2 separate regions of the Homo sapiens genome follow, and region 1 is linked to region 2. The links come from fine-mapping of genetic effects on gene expression. A gene starts in region 2. The other region holds a variant in brackets. All regions are shown on one strand. Distances are from middle to middle.

Region 1 (8,000 bases), 25 kb after region 2:
TGTGTTCAAATGCTGGCAGTCAGGCCATGCTCTGTCTGAGTCCAGACTCTGCCACTTTCTAGCTGTGTGTTCTCGGGCAGGTTATTTACCAACTTTGAGTCCATTTTCTTATCCCTAAAAGAGGGCTGAGAAGCTCACCCCTACCTTTGAAGGTTGTTTGAGGATTAAGCAAGACCAGCATCTGAAGGGCCTGAAGCATCTAGGGCATCATCAGTGCACTTTATCTCTGGCCTCTAAGAAGTGCATCTAGAAGGGACCCACTGTCACAGCTTCCTGGTACCCTTGCCTTTGCCTGTCAGGTAGCACTTCGGTTTGGACCTCACTTTTTCAGGATTTGTTGGAAACAAGATCCCTTATCTTCTCTAGGTCAGATTTGGGGTGAACTTGGCTGACAGTATTCCAGGGCAGGCAGAGGTCAGGCTGGCTGGTGACCTGCTGCCTCCTTCCCATCGGCAGCTAGTTCTAGGGCCATCCACAGGGATCCCCAGCCCTCCATAGTACCAGTGAGCCTCACTGGCATGTGCCAGGGCCAAGAGGGCCTTCAGCGTCGCCTCCAGTCCAGCCCTGTCCTCGTATTCTTGGGGACACTGTGGCTCAGCCAGCACAGTGCCTAGCCCACAGTCACCCAGCAGGCGTCCCTCGAGTGGGCCAGTGGCAGGCACAGAGCTGCTCTCCCCTTGCCTGGATGCGTGAGGAAAGGAACCTCTTCTCCCTGCAGCCCAGCCCTGCAGGCTCTCTGCTGCCAGATGACGAGTGAAGATGAAAGTCCTGATGTCTATTGTCTGTGTGCACAGAGCTTTGGAGTGGCCTGGCCAGGAAGAGGGGAAGCGTGTGTGGGGTCAGCACAAGGGGTTGCCGGGATCTTGGTTACTGGTTCTGCTCTGCTGCTGGTTCCCTCTGAAAATGTGGGTTTCTCCCCTCCGTGCTGAGCCTCAGAAAGGGGTAGGGAGCCCCATGCCAGCACACATGGCCCCTCGGCTCTCTGGCCTCTGCAGGGTCAGCCCAGCTCCTTCACCTCTCTCCTGCTTTCCCCTCAGGCCTCAGTGACCCCACACCCCCTTCAGGCCCAAGCCTGGATGGTACCGGATGGAACAGCTTCCAGGTAGGAGGGGACCACAAACTAGTCTGGCCTGTCCCAGTCCCAGGGTCAGGGCAGCTGGGACAAGTGGCCTGGAGAAACTAAAAGGATGGATGGGCTCTACTCAAGAGCCCAGGGCCAGGGGGTGGCCCAGGGGCCTGGAGACACCCACCCAGGGTACAGGGCCTCCCCTTACCTCCAGCTGTATCTTCCCCAAGTCTCAGCCTTGGGGCTGCAGCCCAGCCTTTGGGATTGGGATTGAGATGGGCAATCCCTCTTCCTTTCCCTTGAGGGTGACAGAGGTCCCTGGATTGTAGAACCCCCAACCAGACCCAGCCACCCTGCATCATGGACATGGGTGGTCTGGGGTCCCCACCTCTGTGGCTGCTTTCCCAGATGTCATTTGCAAGGAGGACACTGAGCCTCAGGGCAGGATCAGGTGATGCTGACACCTCTCTAGACAGCCCCACCCCACCTGCATCCTTTTCCCCACAGTCGTCGGATGCCACTGAGCCCCCAGCCCCTGCTCTGGCCCAGGCCCCCAGTATGGAAAGCCGACCCCCAGCGCAGACATCCCTGCCAGCAAGCAGCGGTCTGGACGACCTAGACCTCCTGGGGAAGACCCTCCTGCAGCAGTCGCTGCCCCCGGAATCCCAGCAAGTGCGGTGGTGAGGGCCCACCATGGCTGGCATGGGGTGGGGAGCACTCCCTGTTCCCACAAACCAGCAACTTCTCCTGGGCTTGTCCAGGCCCAGCAGGGAGAGGCTCGTTGCTGTCTTGTTTTGTAAGCAGCAGATGCCAAGCAGTGCACCTGCCTCTGGAAACACAACAGTGCCCAAGGCAGACCTGGGCCCACTGGCCTGGCCTCCCCCCAGGTGTTCCCAGCTCCCTTGAGAAAGGTCCAGAGGGCCGGCAGAGGGGAGGACACTGGGCTGGAGTGAATAGGTGGGGTGCAGGGTGGAGGGAGAACACGAGCTGCTCCTTCTAAAGGTAAGACCCAAGGCCAGAGAGATAGCCACACGTGCCAGCCTTTCCTGTGCCCCTGATCTCTCCATCACCAAAGAATCACTTTTTCTTTTTTTGAGAGGGAGTCTCACCCTGTCACCCAGGCTGGAGTACAGTGGCATGATCTCGGCTCACTGCAACCTCCATCTCCCAAACTCAAGCGATTCTCCTACGTCAGGCTCCTGAGTAGCTGGGACCACAGGTGTGCGCTACCACGCCCAGCTAGTTTTTTGTATTTTTTATACAGACCGGGTTTCGCCATGTTGCCCAGGCTGGTCTCAAACTCCTGAGCTCAAGCGATCTGCCCGCCTCAGCCTCCCAAAGTGTTGGAATTACAGGGGTGAGCTACCACGCTGGCCAAGAATCACTTCTTAATGCACTGTCCCCCGATTAAGGGAGAAGCAGCAGCCAACCCCCCGGCTCACACTCCGGGACCTGCAGAATAAGAGCAGCAGCTGCAGCTCCCCCAGCTCCAGCGCCACCAGCCTTCTCCACACCGTGTCCCCAGAGCCCCCCAGGCCTCCGCAGCAGCCCGTACCAACCGAGCTCTCACTGGCCAGCATCACTGTGCCCCTGGAGTCCATCAAACCCAGTGAGTAGGGCTGGGGCAGGTGCAGGCTGGGTTGGGTCAGCTTGCTGCCCTGTCAGGAGCTCTGTCTGGGGAAGCTAGTGGGAAAGCAGGGCTCCCCTGGCTCTGCCACTGGCCAACCAGAGGGGAGCTCTGAACAAGGCCCTCCCCTTCCCAGGAGTCAGTTTCCTTATCTGCCCCAGAGCAATCAGAGGACTGCTGTACAAACTCCAGGCTTATATAAGCAAGAAGACCTCTAGGGAGTAGGCTCTGGGCCCCTTCCATCCCCAGGAAGGCAGGGCCCAGGACACAGAGAGGTTTGGGGTCTCCCCCAGATTACAGAACTGAACCATGATAAAGACCCAGATCCAAGGCTGGGTTTTTCCAGCCCAGGAGCAGTAAGGGGACCATGGCCCAGCCCCGGGCCCCAAGCAGACACATGAGGCCTGGTGGTCCTCAGCATTGCCCTCTATGAGCTCCCTGTGACCAAAGACACTACCCCCACAGTGTCTCCCAGCAGTGGGCAGAGCTGCCCCTCTCACCAGTAGGAGAACCCTGAGCTCAGAGAAGGGGAGTGACTGCCGCAAGGTCACACAGCGTGAGACTCACCCTCACCAAGTCCCTCACCCCAGCACTCCAGGCAGCAGCCACACAGCATCGGGGGAAGCTGGGCTGTGACTCGGCTCTGGGGTGGGTGTCCTGCCTCCACTATCAGACTGGGGGTTCACCTGCCCTCTCTGGGCACCGCTCTGTGCCCCTGCCTGCACTGCCACCCAGGGTCCAGGTAAGGCCCCAAAGGAGGACTTTGCTCTTGTTGCCAGTACAGCAGCCAGCTCCTGAGGCCAGCCGGGTGGGGGCTGGGGGCTGAGCGGATGTGCTGCAGCTCAGCTGTCCCATCGCCCTCCCACCTTCTCCCACAGGCAACATCCTGCCCGTGACTGTGTATGACCAGCACGGCTTCCGCATCCTCTTCCATTTTGCCCGGGACCC[A/G]CTGCCAGGGCGCTCCGACGTGCTGGTGGTGGTGGTTTCCATGCTGAGCACCGCCCCCCAGCCCATCCGCAACATCGTGTTCCAGTCAGCTGTCCCCAAGGTGACAAGCCAGTCGGACAGGGCATGCCTCCCTCCTCTCAAGGCAGGGTGACATGGAGCTGGGTGGGGAGCCACCTGTCAGGGGGCAGGTCTCCCTCCCTTGCTGGGTGGTTGGTGTAGAAGGGACCAGAAGGACTGAGCCCCAGGATCCCCGGAGGGGAGCTGGCAGGCTGGGCCTGGTTCCTCAGAGCAGGACAAGCAGCCAGGGCTAGCTGTGCCCATCCTGCCATCTGCCCACAGGTTATGAAGGTGAAGCTGCAGCCACCCTCGGGCACGGAGCTGCCAGCTTTTAACCCCATCGTCCACCCCTCAGCAATCACCCAGGTCCTGCTGCTTGCCAACCCCCAGAAGGTAAGGGGCCCCCAGGCAGTGCTGCAGGGTGGGGACGGCCACTTCTCCTCCTCTGACCCCTCTGCCTTTGCCATCTCTTCCCCAGGAGAAGGTTCGCCTCCGCTACAAGCTCACCTTCACCATGGGTGACCAGACCTACAACGAGATGGGGGATGTGGACCAGTTCCCCCCACCTGAAACCTGGGGTAGCCTCTAGAACAGAGGGGCTGGGGAGAGGAAGGGGCAGAGGGACCGGTCACTGTCCAGCCTGGAGGGAGGCATTGGTGGCCAAGGACACCCTTTGTTGCCCATGGCCATTCACCCCCAGGCCTGGTGCTTCTCCCCACACCCCTGTAGGCCTCAAGTGACTCTTCCCCCTCCTGCTCCGGCCCCGCCCCTGCTGAGCCAAACCCAGTAGGAGGCTGGGCCTGGGTTTGTGCCGCTGGGGTCTCCATCACCGGGACCTGGAGAGGGAGGGGCTGTGTAGCCTTGGAAGAACTTGGGTCATGGGGAGGAAGCACAGCTGTTGGGGAAGGGCCAGGACCTCAGGCCCAGCCCCAACCCCAGCTGGGGTGGGGTCTTCCCCACCTGTCTCTTATGCCTTATGGGAAGGCCCAGCCATAACTCGGGGGCCATGCTGGAGCTGGGGACCAGCTTAGGCCTCCTCCATAGGAACCCAGTGACTGGGGGGTGACGCCTACACCCCCAGCTATTTGCACTCTGGTGTGTGGTTTGACTCTGCTTTTCTTCCGGATTGGCCCTGTGGTCACAGCCTCAGGGGGCCAGGCTGGGGGAACCTCACCTGGCCCGTACTCCTGGGGGTTTCCCTTTGCCATTGGGCCCCCTGAGGGACTGTGGGGGCTCAAGGGTAATGCCAGAGGCCCATGGCCCCAGCGAGGGGCTGTGGGGCACCTAGAGTTCTCGGTGTGTCTCCTTCATTCATTGGCCTCTGCTGGGGCCTCCTATGGGTGTCTTACGTCTGTCCATCCATCTGTCCGTGGTCAGAAGTGGGGTCAGTGTGTGAGTGAGAGCAGGAGTATTTATGAAAATAAAACGTCGTTTTTCCTGGACCAGCTGCTCTCGTGGCCCTTTGGAGGTTGAGGGAGATGGGAGGGGTTGAGTCCATGTTCCCTAGGGCTGCCCTGTAGACCTCTCCACTTCCGTCTTTGGAGGTCAGGCCGTGGGCCCCCTCCCCACCACCCCCCGGGCCCTGCACCGGAAAAGGCCCTGCAAAGGGGCCTGTGGCCAGTGCTGAGTCACCAGAGAGGGCGCTGGGCTGTGGCGGACCAGGACCGTCCCAGCTGGAAGTGGGCGACCGCCAGGGCCTGGCAGGAGCCCCAGCTGCTACAGACACCGAGGGGGAGGCCCCTGGCTGCTCACGACTTCCTCCTGCTGTGCTCAGCCCTCCACACAACCTCGATGCTGCAGCACCCCAGAGGGAAGTCCAAGCCCAGCTTCTCCCTCCCCCCAGACATCACTCCCTTGCCCAGCACCAATCGCAGTTTGTTTGGGAGCAGACCCAGGGACCCTGAGCTGGGCCCCTGCCACTCGCAGCGGCAGCTCTCCCCCACACAGTGCTATCAGTTTTCTCCAACCAGGAGGCTGGGGTCCAAGCTTGGGCGTGGCTTCGAGGCCACACAGCTGGGAGCGAGGGGGCGCTGGTCCAGGCAGATGGGCCCTGTTGTGTGGGAGGCCAGCCCTGCGTGTGGCTCTGCAGGAAAGTGTTCCCTGCTCAGATGAGTCCAGGGAGGCTGCGCACGGTTTCTCCTGAGTAGATGAGCCCATACAGACCCTGGGAAGTCCCTCATTTAAGAAGCCATTTTCACTTTGTCTAATCTAGTGTTTCCCAATCTGAACTTGGCCGCTGAACCCTTCTCCTTAGATATAGTTGTGACATGCTGGAGAATTGCCCAGCACACCCGCATCCCAGCGTGTGTGCTCTTTAACACTCATCAGCAAGCAAGGGGCCCCTCTCTGCTGGGCCCACACTGAAAGCGCAGGCTGAGAGCTCCTCCATGTCCGCCTTACTGCTGAGGGGACAAGAGGCATTAGCTGCACCCTGCGGGAGCCTCCTATCAGATCCCTACAGTGGGACTCCCACCCTGGCACAGCCCTCCAGACAGAGGCTGGCCCCTGGAGGCTTCCAGACACCCTGTCCCAGCCACGTGGCCTCGTTCCTGTTCCCCTTCCCTACCCTGCAGGACTCGCCTCCACACTTGTGATGTCTCCTGAAGATAACTCCGGTTGGAAGTTTCTTCTACCTGAAATGAAACCATAACCCCTGCAGCATCCACTTGGGGTGCCAGAGTCCCACCTCCAGCACAGTCTTCATTACTGGCCATGGCAGGGAGGAGTACAGGTTGGCATGGGGAACAGGTGGGACTGTGAGCTGGGAGTCTGGGGGCTGGTTCTGGCTGGGTCACTGGCTTGCTGTGTGATTTTGAGGAAGATGCTTTCCTTTCTGGAAAAGGGGAGAGGGACTCAATGAGCTATAAGGTCCCTCTGAGGAGTCCTTGGACAAAGGAGCCAGGCTGTCAGCTTTGGAGTGACCCAGGATATTCCGGGGACGGGAAGGTGGGGTCCCTTCAGCCTTTGGACCTTGTCCCTTGCCTTGTCCTTAACCCACCCATCCTGTCAGTCATGCCAGTGTTTCCTGAGCAGCCCCTGGGCCAGCCCCTGTCCTAAGAGTTCACAAGCTGGCAAGGACTTGGGAGCCAGTGTGGCACCCTGAGAGCAAAGACATAAGGTACCACAGAAGCCCTGCATCTGTCTGAGAGTCTGGGGTGGGTTCTAACCAGAGGAAAGGACCCTGGGCCTCCACTCCCTGGAGGAGTCCTTCCCCAAATACCGTGTTGCTGCACAGAGGTCCGGGCCACTGCGCTCTGCAGTCTCAGGGGCTGGGATGCAGTGCACTGGGGAGGCGTGTGCTCTGTCTCTTGAAGGGTGACCCCCAGTGCCATGCCAAGACCAGTGGGACTTCCCAGATCTCGAAGCCCCACTTCCATTTCTGTTGATTTGGCCGAGGCACCAGTTAATTTTGGTTTTCAGCAACCGCATCACACTGTTCGTCTGTTTATGGCAGCCAGGAGAAGTGGCAAGGGCCTGGGAGCCTGCTCCTGCCTAGTCGGTTTTTTGTTGTTGTTGTTTTTACGGAGTTTCGCTCTTGTTGCCCAGGCTGGAGTGCAATGGCACGATCTCGGCTCACCGCAACCTCTGCCTCCCGAGTTCAAGCGATTCTCCTGCCTCGGCCTCCCGAGTAGCTGGGATTACAGGCCTGCGCCACCACATCCTGCTAAGTTTGTATTTTTAGTAGAGACGGGGTTTCTCCATGTTGGTCAGGCTAACTCCCACCTAAGGTGATCCACCTGCCTTGGCCTCCCAAAGTGCTGAGATTACAGGCGTGAGCCACCACACCCGGCCCCCAGTCAGTTTTTTGGTTTTTTTGTTTGTTTGTTTGAGGTAAGGTCTCTCACCCAGGCTGGAGGGCAGTGTTGTAAACACAGCTCCCTGCAGCCCTGACCTCCTCGGCGCAGGCAATCCTACCCTCTTAGCCTCCTGAGCAGCTGGGACCACAGGCGCGTGCCACCATGCCCGGCTAATATTTTTATTTTTTGTATAGAGTTTCGCCAGGTTGCCCAGGCTGGTCTGGAACTCCTGAGCTCAAGCGATCCACCTGCCTCAGCCTCCCAAAGTGTTGTGGTGAGCTACTGTGCCTGGTCTGCCTGGTCTCTCGACATACCCCCTCCCCCAGTCTCTCTGGGCCTTGCAACCAGGGCACCAGCCCAGCAAGGCAGGCAAGAGGAGCCCCCGGACCTGATGCCTATAGCCTCCCATCTTAAGCCTCTGAAATGCCCTGTGAAATGGGAAGTGAGGCTCAGAGAAGTCACACATTATGGGCTGAGTCTGGGCCAGCAGTCTTGAGGTGTCTAC
Region 2 (11,432 bases):
TATTATGAAGAGCTGGGGCAGAGGAGGCTGGGGACTAGAGTCCCACTCTGCAGCAGAGATGGTCCACACCATGTAGTCAGACCTTGAGGTGAATCTACATAAGCTCTTCTCAGATCTAAGGTCCTTGGGGAGCTAGAGCAGGCAGGAACAGTTGGCTTGGGGAGCATGAGGTGGACTGAGCAGAGGTTAAGGTTCTCTAACTTTGGGCAGACATTCCTGGGCCGGCTAACTGCAGCCTTGACCTCCTGGGCTCAAGCGATCCTCCTGCCGTATCGAGTAGCTGGGACTATAGTTGCATACCACCACACTCAGCGCTGAGCTAATTCTTTTTTTTTTTTTTTCTGGTTGCCTAGACTGGTCTCAAACTCCTGAGCTCAAGTGATCCTCCTGCCTTGGCCTCCCAAAGTGTTTGGATTACAGTCGTGAGCCCCCTGTGCCTGTGCCCAGCCTCTCCAAGGGGCTTTTACATGGTGGTCACCCAGAGAAAACCAGCAGGGTAGAGCCTGCAGCACCTTGGAAATCAAGCAGAACTTGGCCCCAGCTCCCCATTTATGGCTTCAGGCAAGAGTTTCTGTAACCTCACTGGCCCTCTACTTTCCTCCTCTGTAATTTGAGAAGACTAATAACTATCTTAAAGTACTGGTATGATATAAATGAAAAAGCCATGGCACATAATGGATGAGTCAATAAATGGTAGCAAATTATCCTGATTTGGAATCAGATCAAAGGTAGTGAAATGAACTGTCACATGGGAGATTCCCACCTGCCCCCCAATCTTCCCAGGACATGGAAAAGCCCAATGAACAAATCCATTTCATTAGTGGCCACAGTCCCCTCACTCCCACCCTGAAATGGCCCAGATTTCCCTTGCAGCAGATTTTTTTTTTTTTTTTTTGAGATCTCACTCTGTTGCCCAGGTTGAAGTGCAGTGGCATAATCATGGCTCACTGTAGCCTCAACCTCCTGGACTTAATCCATCCTCCCACCTCAGCCTCCCTAGTAGCTGGGGCCACTGGCAGGCGCCATCATGCCTCGCTAATTTTTTTTTTTTGAGACAGAGTCTCACTGTGTTGTCCAGGCTGGAGTGCAGTGGCACAATCTCAGCTCACTGCAACCTCCGCCTCCCAGGTTTCAAGCAATTCTCCTGCCTCAGCCTCCCAGATAGCTGGGATTACAGGCATGCATTACCAAGCCCGGCTAATTTTTTGTATTTTTAGTAGAGATGGGGTTTCACCATATTGGCCAGGCTGGTCTCGAATTTCTGACCTCAGGTGATCTGCCCACCTCGGCCTCCCAAAGTGCTGGGATTACAGGAGTAAGCCACTGTGCCTGGCCATGCCTGGCTAATTTTTTAAATTTTTTGTAGAGACGGGGTCTTGCTGACCTTGTAGCAGGTCTTATTTTTGCTGTCCCATTGTTTCAGGCAATCTAGATTTTGGGGGAAAGGCTTAACTGCAAACAACCAATGAGATAATCTTCTGTAACACAGGCATTTATATATTTGTACTGAATTATATTTCTTTTCATCTTAAACATCATTTTCTTTTTTAATTTTATTTATAATAAATAAATATTTATTATAATTTTTTTTTTTTTTTTTTGGAGACGGAGTCTCGCTCTGTCACCCAGGCTGGAGTGCAGTGGTGTGATCTTGGCTCACTGCAACCTCCGCCTCCCGGGTTCAAGCGATTCTCCTGCCTCAGCCTCCTGAGTAGCTGGGATTACAGGCTTACACCACCACGCCCAGCTAATTAGTAGAAACGAGGTTTCACCATGTCGGTCAGGCTGGTCTTGAACTCCTGACCTCGTGATCCACCCACCTCGGCCTCCCAAAGTGCTGGGATTACAGGTGTGAGCCACTGCACCCAGCCAACATGATTCTTTTCAATTAAGATAATTTATTAAATTCACCGGGAAATAGAGCTAAATTTTAATACTTTGTGAGCCTTTTATTGTGTAAATTCACACATTTTGGCAATGATGTTGGTTACACCACTTGGCCCAGATCGGATTCAGAAAATAGAGCCCTTCTCCCTGTCCCCTGCACACATACATGAGGAGTTGAATACATCCATTCCGTAGGCTCTGTCATCTTTCTGATGTCTGCTCTCTCCCAGTCAGCAGCAGCATCTGGAATCATGGCTCCTGGGATCATGCATGAACTTTGGGTGCAGAGAATCAAGCTTGAGTTCAAATTCTGCTTTCTGTCTTCTTAGCTGTGTGACCTCAGGACCTTTGCACTTGCTGTCTGCGTAGTCACCCTTTCTACCGCTGGCTCCTTCTCAGCTTAAATATCAACTCCAACAGGCCTGTCCAGGCCACTTCCCATATGGCCTCTACTCTCTCACACTAGCCCACTTGGGTCCCTTCGTAATTACCTCCATGTGCTTTGTTTGCTTCCGTGTTTTCTTTTTTTATTCTTTTTTTTTTTTTTTTGAGACTGAGTCTTATTCTGTTGCCCGGGCTGGAGTGCAGTGGCGCAATTTTGGCTCACTGCAACCTCTGCCTCTTGGGTTCAAGCAATTCTCCTGCCTCAGCCTCTTGAGTAGCTGGGACTACAGGCACGCGCCACCACGCCCAGCTAATTTTTTGTATTTTTAGTAGAGACGGGGTTTCACCATGTTTGCCAGGACGGTCTCAATCTCCTGACCTCGTGATCCGTCCGCCTCTGCCTGGCAAAGTGCTGGGATTACAGGCTTGAGCCACTAGCCTTTTTTTTTTTTTTTTTTTTTGAGATGGAGTCTCACTCTGTCGCCCAGGCTGGAGTGCAGTGGCGCGATCTCAGCTCACTGCAACCTCCCAGGTTCAAGGAATTCTTGTGCCTCAGCTTCGCAAGTATCTGGGATTACAGGTGCATACCACCACACCTGGCTAATTTTTGTATTTTTAGTAGAGATGGGGTTTCACCATGTTGAGCAGGCTGGTCTCAAACTCCTGACCTCAAGTGATCTACCCGTCTTGGCCTCCCAAAATGCTGGGATTGTAGGCTTGAGCCACCCCGCCCAGCCTGCTTCTGTGCTTTCCATCCTTTGAAGGCAGGGACTTGCTCTGATGTGGGCTCTTGTGATGGAGACACGTGGGGGCCTTGGCCAACCACATCCTTGCTCAGAGTCTCAGATTTCTCATCTGTAAAACAGGAAGAATAGAATTCAACTCTGAGGTCTGTGGGAATATTAAAGGCGACAATGACAACCATGGTCCTCTGTGCCCCCCTCCCCTGAGGTTCCCATGCCCGGAAGGGACATGCAGGATCTGACTGGAGTCACAGGGGCTGAGGCTGGGGCCACGCCTCAGTTTGTTTCCTGAACCTTCTACAATCCTCCTCCAAGAAAGAATTGCATGTCCTCCCCCATATCTCTCCTCCAAGTTTGCAAGGATGCCCATCTCCCCAGCTCCTATTCCCTCGCCCCAGCCCTCCCTCACCAACGTTTCCAGTGTTCCAGGGGTTTTCTTAGGAAGGAGCTGAGGTGTTAAATCCTTAGAGGTCGGCATGGCTTAGGTGATTATAGCTGAGCTTTACCTGCCCTTCTCAGGGGTTCCTCAAGTCTCTCAAAGCAACACATTTGCTCATGGTGGGGAATGGGTGGGAACGGCTGCCACAGGCATTTCCTCCAAGTTTCCCGTGTTGGTCCTCCTTCCTTTCACCATCTTTAGGTTCCTCCTACCGTACCTCCTACCCTGATCCCCAGTTTGGGCCAGGCCCTTCACGCATAGACACAGCTCCTGAGTCTACCTTATCACGCCCTGCTCCCCAGAACTCAGAGGGACAGCCTAGAGCCTTTGTTACAAGCACAGCCTGGCTCGCCTCTCCAAACCCCCATACTCACTGTGCAATGTTGGGCATATTCATTCATTTATTTGATGCATATTTATTGAATACTTATTGTGTAACAGTTACTGTTTTAGGGCTTGGGGATATATTATTAGTGAAGTAACTAAATAAAATCCATTGCCGTGGTGGAGCTTACATTCTGGTGGGGGAGAGAGACACAAAACACAACAAAGAAATGAAATATGTAGTGGAGATAAGTGCTAAGGAGAAAAGTTCAGCAGAAAAGGTGGTAGGGAACATGTGGTAGGGGATTAATTTTGCAGACACACTTGTTCAAGATCATCCAGAAAGCAGTGAAGTCAGAATTTGCACCTAAATCAAATCTATTTTGTCTTTAAAAGTGACTCCTGACAGCACAGACATGTCCCTAAATGAATGCAGTAAATGCGATGTGAGTTTTATTTCAGTAATAATTCATCTCAGGCTGGGCGTGGTGGCTCACGCCTGTAATCCAAACACTTTGGGTGGTCAAGGCAGGTGGATCACCTGAGGTCAGGGGTTCGAGACCCGCCTGGCCAACATGGCGAAACCCTGTCTCTACTAAAAATACAAAAATTAGCCAGGCATGATGGCGCATGCCTGTAATCCCAGCAACTCAGGAGGCTGAGGCAGGGGAATCGCTTGAACCCAGGAAGCAGAGGTTGCAGTGAGCTGAGATCGTGCCACTGCACTCTAGCCTGGGCGACAGAGTAAAACTCTGTCTCAAAAATAAATATAATAGGCTGGGCGCAGTGGTTCATACCTGTAATCCCAGCACTTTGGGAGGCTCAGGCGGGTGGATTACTTGAGGTCCAGAGTTCGAGACCAGCCTGGCCAACATGGTGAAACCCCGTCTCTACTAAAAATATGAAAAAATTAGCCGGGCGTGGTGGCAGGCGCCGGTAATCCCAGCTACTCGGGAGGGTGAGGGAGGAAAATCACTTGAACCCGGGAGGCAGAGGTTGTGGTGAGCTGAGATCGCGTCACTGCACTCCGGCCTGGGCGACAGAGAGAGACTCCGTCTCAAAAATAAAATAAAATAAAAAAATATATATAATTCATTTCAGTAGTAAAAGACATAAACAAAAAGCTATAAGTATACACTACGTTACAGCTTTTGTTGAGGAATGCAATAAACATACATATCACTTCCCTGTATAATCTCAATGGCCTTTGGGAGAGAATTTAGAAAAGCATCCCAGTCGCTGAATGGTTGAGTTTAGGGGAAAAACTGACCCAGCACAGCCCCCTCATCTCCTGGATGAGGTTACTGCGGTTCCGCAAGGTGAATCGAGGTCAGTCGCCAAGGCAGAACCGGATTCGCCAGATTCCCTAGTCTCAGTGGAGCTTTAACCCTCCCAGGCACAGGACCGCTGGAGAGGTCGCCACGGGCCGGTTTCCCAGCCGGCCGCGAGGGGGCGACAGAGTGCAATGGACCCAGGTGAGTCGGGGACCAGGCGCCGCCAGGTCGTGACGCCACAAGGTGAGGGAGGTCTTTGATGGAGGGAGATACAGGAGAAAAGGCGCCGAGCTTAGGAAGTCTGTTCGTACTGTCCTCCCCGATTCCAGTCTGGCTCCCACTGCTATCTTCCTCCCACTGCTGGACCCTTCTAAAACAAAAGCCTGACTTTGCTACCATCCGTAAAACTGTAACGACACCTCCAACGTTGCTTACAGGGAAAAAAAAAAAAAAGGGCAGCAAAACATGGGACCTGGGTGATCTTGCCCCAGCCTAATTCCAAGATATCTCCTGCAAATAGATATCTATTTGCAGATATCTGGGAGCCGTATTGAAATACTTCCAACTCCCTGGACTCATCCTACTTTTTTTTTTTTTTTTTTTTTTGAGACTGAGTCTCGCTATGCCGCCCAGGCTGGAGTGCAGTGACGCAATCTCGGCTCACTGCAACCTTCACCTCCCGGGTTCAAGCGATTCTTCTGCCTCAGCCTTCTAAGTAGCTGGCACTAAAGGCGCGCCCAGATAATTTTTTTTTTTTTTTTTTTTTAGTAGAGACGGGGTTTCACCGTGTTAGGATGGTTTCGATCTCCTGACCTCGTGATCCGCCCTCCTCGGCCTTCATCCTACTTTTTCTCCCTGAATATCTTTTCGCACCAGCTCTACGTGGAGAAATCCGACTGTCTTTGAGCGAAGTACAGTATCACTTTCTCTTGAAACCTCCCCTGACACGACCCCTCCCCTGACACGACCCCTCCCCTGACAACACCCCCACCCACCCCACCCCAGTTTGGGGGAGGAGCCCCCTCCTTTGTTCCCACTACCCCGTGGGCTTCCCCTATCACACTGTAATAAATATCTGGCCTTGTCTATCTCCTTCTGTGCCCATCACAGAGCAAAGCAAATACAAAGAGTTCATTAAACGTTGGCTGGATGAATGGAGGAGACGGCACAGGGTTCAAGCTCTGCTACTTGTGCGGCCTCAGGCCGACTAATTATCTGGTGGGTTTGTTGTAAGGAGTCAGAACTAAATGGATTAATTACAAATAGTGCTTAGGACAATGCCCAGAATACTGTAAGCACTCAAGAAACTGATTTATTTTCGTCATTTTCACAGCGGCCAAGGTACATGAGGATGTAGCTTATCGCCCTTTTAAGGGACTCTCCCACGTTCGACTCTAAGCGGAAGTACCCGCTCAGGGCTCCGGAAGTGGCCTCAGAGCCCCTCAGCAACATGCCCGCAGAGAATTCTTCCGGAGGCGGTCACAGACATCTCCGTGACGCAGAACGAGTTAGAGCGTCCCTTGGGGTTTCCATGGTGCTGCCCTTAGCCTGCAGTATCTCCACTTCCTCTCCCGCCTGAGCGCCGGGAACGGAAAAGCAGGCGGCCGGTCCCAGCTGCGACGTAGACGCCGCGTGGGGGTGGGGTTGGGCGAGTAGGTGACGCTCTAGGCGAGCTCGTTGGCCTCTCTATGGTGCCGAGCGCGCCCGTTCGGACGTTGCCCCTTTAATCGGCAGAGGGCGGTGCCCAGGAGGTCCCGCGAGAGCTGCGGGGGGCGGGGGGGCGGTGCCGAGGCTGGGGGCCGGTGGCGGATGGAGCCCGCGATGGAGCCGGAGACTCTGGAGGCGCGAATCAGTGAGTGTCCGGGAGGGGCGCGGGCCGGACCGGAACCGGAACCGGGGGCACGAGGCGGGCCCCTTCCCGGCGGGGGCGGGGTACGGGTCGCCCCCTCCTCACGCCCCGCCCCCGGCCCGGGAGGGGCGGTGTCCTCAGTCGGCCCCTCAGACCCTGGAGCGATGGAGGACCCCGGCCCCGGCGCGGTCCAGCGGTGGGAGCGGGCGCCGCCCACCTGTCGGATCCCTGGGCCATGACCCCTGGGACGGCGAGTGAGCTGCGCCGGGAACCCCCGGGACGGAGAGAGCAGCCTCCAACCCCCAAGGCTCACATTGCTTCACGGAGTAGCGGCCCGGGGAAGGAGCACGCGAGCGGTTCCCCGGGGTTGCATCTCACACCCGGGAGGGAGGGACCCTACTATTTTCAGGCCCCGAATCCTCCACTCTCTGGCCCTGCATGGCGTTCCTGGAGCCCGCAAGTAGTCACATTTGCTCATTACCCCGTCCTGGAAGGGAGGACCCACTGCCCCATTTGATTCCTCCCGCCGCTCCTAGTCTCTAGCCACATAGTGAGAAACCCCCGCACCCTACAGGCTTGGGAGAGTCTTAGACTCCAGAAGTATTAATAATTCCAAGCTCCCTGTCACTCCCTTCAGCCTAACCCCTCAGTCTCCAAGATGCCTTTCCCAGCTCTTGCTGAACTTCCTTCAAAGGCTTCTACACCCCTTTTTTTCTTGTTTCTCCTCAGACGTAGCTTCCTATTGCTTAGGCTTCCTAGCCCGCAAACCCTCCACCTGAGCTCCTTAACCCACAGCCCTGATGATCCCCTGCTCTCACAGCCCCGCTCCTGGACTCTGCCTCTGAAAGCCGTGGCTGGCTTCTCCCTGGTCTAGTGAGGGTTCTCTCCCAAGGCTTTAACTGCTGTTGGGACCCCGTCGTTGCCAGGGCCTCAGGGAACCCTCTTGGACCCGGGCACACCGGCAACTGTCTAGCGTGGTTTGGGGTCATGGCCGGCCCCTTTTAAGCCAGGCTTGAGCAGAGTTGAACCATGAGGTTGGCCCCAGAACCAAACCTCTAGGGATGTTTCAGAGTCATCCTAGCCACCAGAGGGGCAGGGGGTGGAAAAGGGGCACTCAGCAGCCCTTGACCGTTGTGAACGCCGGAAGTGTCCGCCTGGGTCTCAGCAGCAACTGGGCTGGGGGGATGGGTGGGCCCCTGGCTAACTGATCTCAGACACAGGTCTTGAGCTGTGGGTCATACAAAACATTCTCAGGTTTAGAAACAGTGGGGGTTTTCTGAGAGTCCAGAGAGTCTAAAACCAGGCAGAAGTTAGAGATACCTGGGTTTGGCTGGGCCCTGACACACTGGGGCTGGGATTTTCTCCTTTCCTTCCCCCTTTGTGTCCTAGCAGAATTGTAAGATCTTTCCTCTTCCCTTGTGGAGGCTGGAGGTAAAGGATAGCTTCTTCTTTTTTTTTTTGAGACGGGTTTTCACTCTTGTCACCCAGGCTGGAGTGCAGTGGCACAATCTCAGCTCTCTGCAACCTCCACCTCCCGGGTTCAAGTGATTCTCCTGTCTCAGCCTCCCGAGTAGCTGGAATTACAGGTGCGCCACCACGCCCAGCTATTTTTGTATTTTTAGTACAGGTGGGCTTTCACCATGTTGGCCAGGCTGATCTCGAACTCCTGACCTCAGGTGATCCGCCTATATAGGCCTCTCAAAGTGTTGGGATTACAGGCGTTAGCCACTCATCCGCCCACGTCGGCCTCTCAAAGTGTTGGGATTACAGGCGTGAGCCACCGCGCCCGGCCTAGTGAGGTAAATGATGTTATTGTCAGCACTATAGAGTGGCAGGGTGGAGTCTTACCCTGTTGTGAAACACCTCCCTCCCTCTCTAGGTGTTCTCCCCAACTGCCTGCTAGGGAGGGTACTCCCCTCAGGTAGAATTAAGAGGGCTGAGGGTCAGGGGCCATGGGCCAAGGAGGTCAGTCAGATCTCCTTGGATCTGGAGGCCCTGGCTTTCAGCCAGAGGCAGGGGGAGAAAGATGATGTCTCATGATGCCAGCGCTTCCTCTTCACTGGCGTCTGACCCAGGAGCAGTCCAGAATCAGCTTCTCTGACCTCACTCCAACTCACGTGTCTTTGACACTTTAAGGGACTTCCTGTTTTAGGGTCTTCTGGCTGGGTGTCATTGAATGGGCAGTGATTCTCTAACTTTAGACTGATGTTCCCCAGCCTTTGTTTGGGGACTCGGAGGCAGAGTAGACAGTTACCCTTACCCCTGGGTTGGGGAGGGTCATATTCCTGGTATCCCCAGGAGGTCAACAGGGGCTTCATTTTTCTGAGGGACTAGAGGGTCTTGTGGAGCTCCTGGGACAGAGATCTAGATCCAGAGAGAACATTCGTCCTTCCGATCTCAGCTCAGCTCTGAGAGCCCTCCCAGAGAGCAGCTCCCGAGGGCTCCAGAGCCCTCCGAAAGCCCTCCCAGAGAGCAGCCCCCACCTCCCAGGCTGTCTGCACTTCTCCTTGCTATGCTTTGCTCTGTAACATTTTGCAACAGTCTGCAGTACACGGGGTTTGTTAATCTGAGTATTCATTGTTTCTCTTGCTGGGCAGTGAACTTGAGGAGGGCAGGGATTTTGTCTGTTCACTGCTGGAGCCCCAGCACCCAGAATACTTAAATCTGAGTTGGATGAATGGCGGCCAGCCACTGGGATTCCAGGGCTTTGGGCCCCCTGCCATAACATATGGCCCAGGGCAGGCGCCACATGCTGGGTCAGTCCCCAGCCTCCTGTCCACAGATCCTTCTCTGTTCTACCTCCTGGGCTGTGTCCTTCCACACCCTCAGCTCGGTGCTCAGGCGTGGGCAGAACTGGCTGGGAAGGGGTGGTCCTTAGAGGTGGGCTGTGGAGAAATGAAGATCGAGCTCTGGCTGCCGCCATGGCCTTCCCATGCAAAAAGTATTTTGTCATCCAAAATCAATATTTTGGTCAGGCACAGTGGCTCATGCCTGTAATCCCAGCACTTTGGGTGGCCGAGGTGGGTGGATCATTTGAGGTCAGGAGTTTGAGACCAGCCTGACCAACATGGTGAAATTCCATCTCTACCAAAAATACAAAAAAATTAGCTGGGCATGGTGGTGGACGCCTGTGATCCCAGCTACTCTCAGGAGGCTGAAGCAGGAGAATCGTTTGAACCCAGGAAGCTGAGATTGCAGTGAGCCGAGATCTCGCCACTGCACTCCAGCCTGGGCAACAAAGCAAGACTCTTTCTCAAAAAAAAATAAAAATAAAAAAATACAGGCCGGACGCAGTGGCTCACACCTGTAATTCCAGTACTTTGGGAGGCCGAGGCAGGTGGATCACGAGGTTAGGAGATCAAGACCATCCTGGCTAACACAGTGAAACCCCGTCTCTACTAAAAATACAAAAAAAAAAAAAATTAGCCGGGCGTGGTGGCGGGCACCTGTAGTCCCAGCTACTCGGGAGGCTGAGGCAGGAGAATGGCGTGAACCTGGGAGGCAGAGTTTGCAGTCAGCCGAGATCACACCACTGCACTCCAGCCTGGGCGATAGAGCGAGACTCCGTCTCAAAAAAAAAAAAAAATACAGCCGGGCACGGTGGCTCACACCTGTAATCCCAGCACTTTGGGAGGCCAAGGTGGGCGGATCACAAGGTCAGGAGATTGAGACCATCCTGGCTAACATGGTGAAACCCTGTCTCTACTAAAAATACAAAAAAAAATTAGCCGGGCGTGGTGGCGGGTGCCTGTAGTCCCAGCTACTCGGGAGGCTGAGGAAGGAGAATGGCATGAACCTGGGAGGCGGAGCTTGCAGTGAGCCGAGATCGTGCCACTGCACTCCAGCCTGGGCAACAGCGTGAGACTCGTCTCAAAAAAAAAAAAAAATCCATATTTCATTCCAGCTTTACAAGATGGGGAAATGGAGGTTCAGGGAAGCATGTAAGCTAGATTGTTGTTTAACCAGTATTGGGGGTTAAAGGGGTAGCTGTCTGGTCGTGTTTACACCACTTCATGTAGACCTGTTGGCCCTCTTTCCTTGCCACTATCCATTTCTGGATTCAGTCTTCCCCAGAACCTCACCCTTTGCCTGCCCTCAGCTGACTGCTCATTCATTTGCCAAGGGGAGACAGGTGTGGACATGAGTGGCTGGGATGCAGTGCCGTAGCAGGCTGGGGGACACAAAAGAGAACTGACCCAGCACTGCTACCCTGGGCAGGAGTAGAGGATTAGAGAAGGGGACACCGGAGCCACTCCCAAGGGAATGAAGGCTTTCTGAACCTGGTGTGATGGTAAGACTCACACTCCTTACTGAGGCCCCTCATTCTCTGCCTCGTGTGGTTACCCGCATCTTTCCTGCCCATACAGCCATGCGTGGGTCAGAGGTGTACCAGCTCCAGCCTGGGTGACTCCTCCTGGTCCCTGCTTGTGTGTTGCCTCTTCCAGGCAGCCTCCTCAGCCCCAAACTGAACTGAGTCCCCTCCTCTGTGTTTCTTTTTTGTTTGTTTGAGACGGAGTCACCCAGAGTCCCAG

What was found.
Region 1: its variant is fine-mapped to the expression of GGA1 in whole blood (TOPMed, PIP above 0.99). The same link has a PIP of 0.9 or more in blood mononuclear cells.

What each region holds. Positions count from the first base shown.
Region 1 is chr22:37,628,425-37,636,424 of GRCh38, forward strand. It overlaps GGA1 (golgi associated, gamma adaptin ear containing, ARF binding protein 1), which reads left to right. Exons shown (of 17, transcript NM_013365.5): 12 at 1,038-1,102; 13 at 1,574-1,746; 14 at 2,479-2,675; 15 at 3,572-3,741; 16 at 3,981-4,091; 17 at 4,177-5,140. The coding sequence ends at 4,287. Among named protein-coding and RNA genes, the nearest start is that of SH3BP1, 7.2 kb to the right of the region's middle. RefSeq lists enhancers at 4,314-4,373, 4,554-4,613, 4,880-5,753, 4,974-5,133, 5,914-6,003. The variant A/G (reference allele first, on the strand shown) is at 3,642.
Region 2 is chr22:37,602,001-37,613,432 of GRCh38, forward strand. GGA1 (golgi associated, gamma adaptin ear containing, ARF binding protein 1) reads left to right here and starts at 6,834. Exons shown (of 17, transcript NM_013365.5): 1 at 6,834-6,903. The coding sequence starts at 6,861. RefSeq lists a cis regulatory region at 5,010-5,469, enhancers at 6,214-6,293, 6,444-6,613, 7,218-7,839, 7,554-7,663 and a silencer at 6,774-7,223.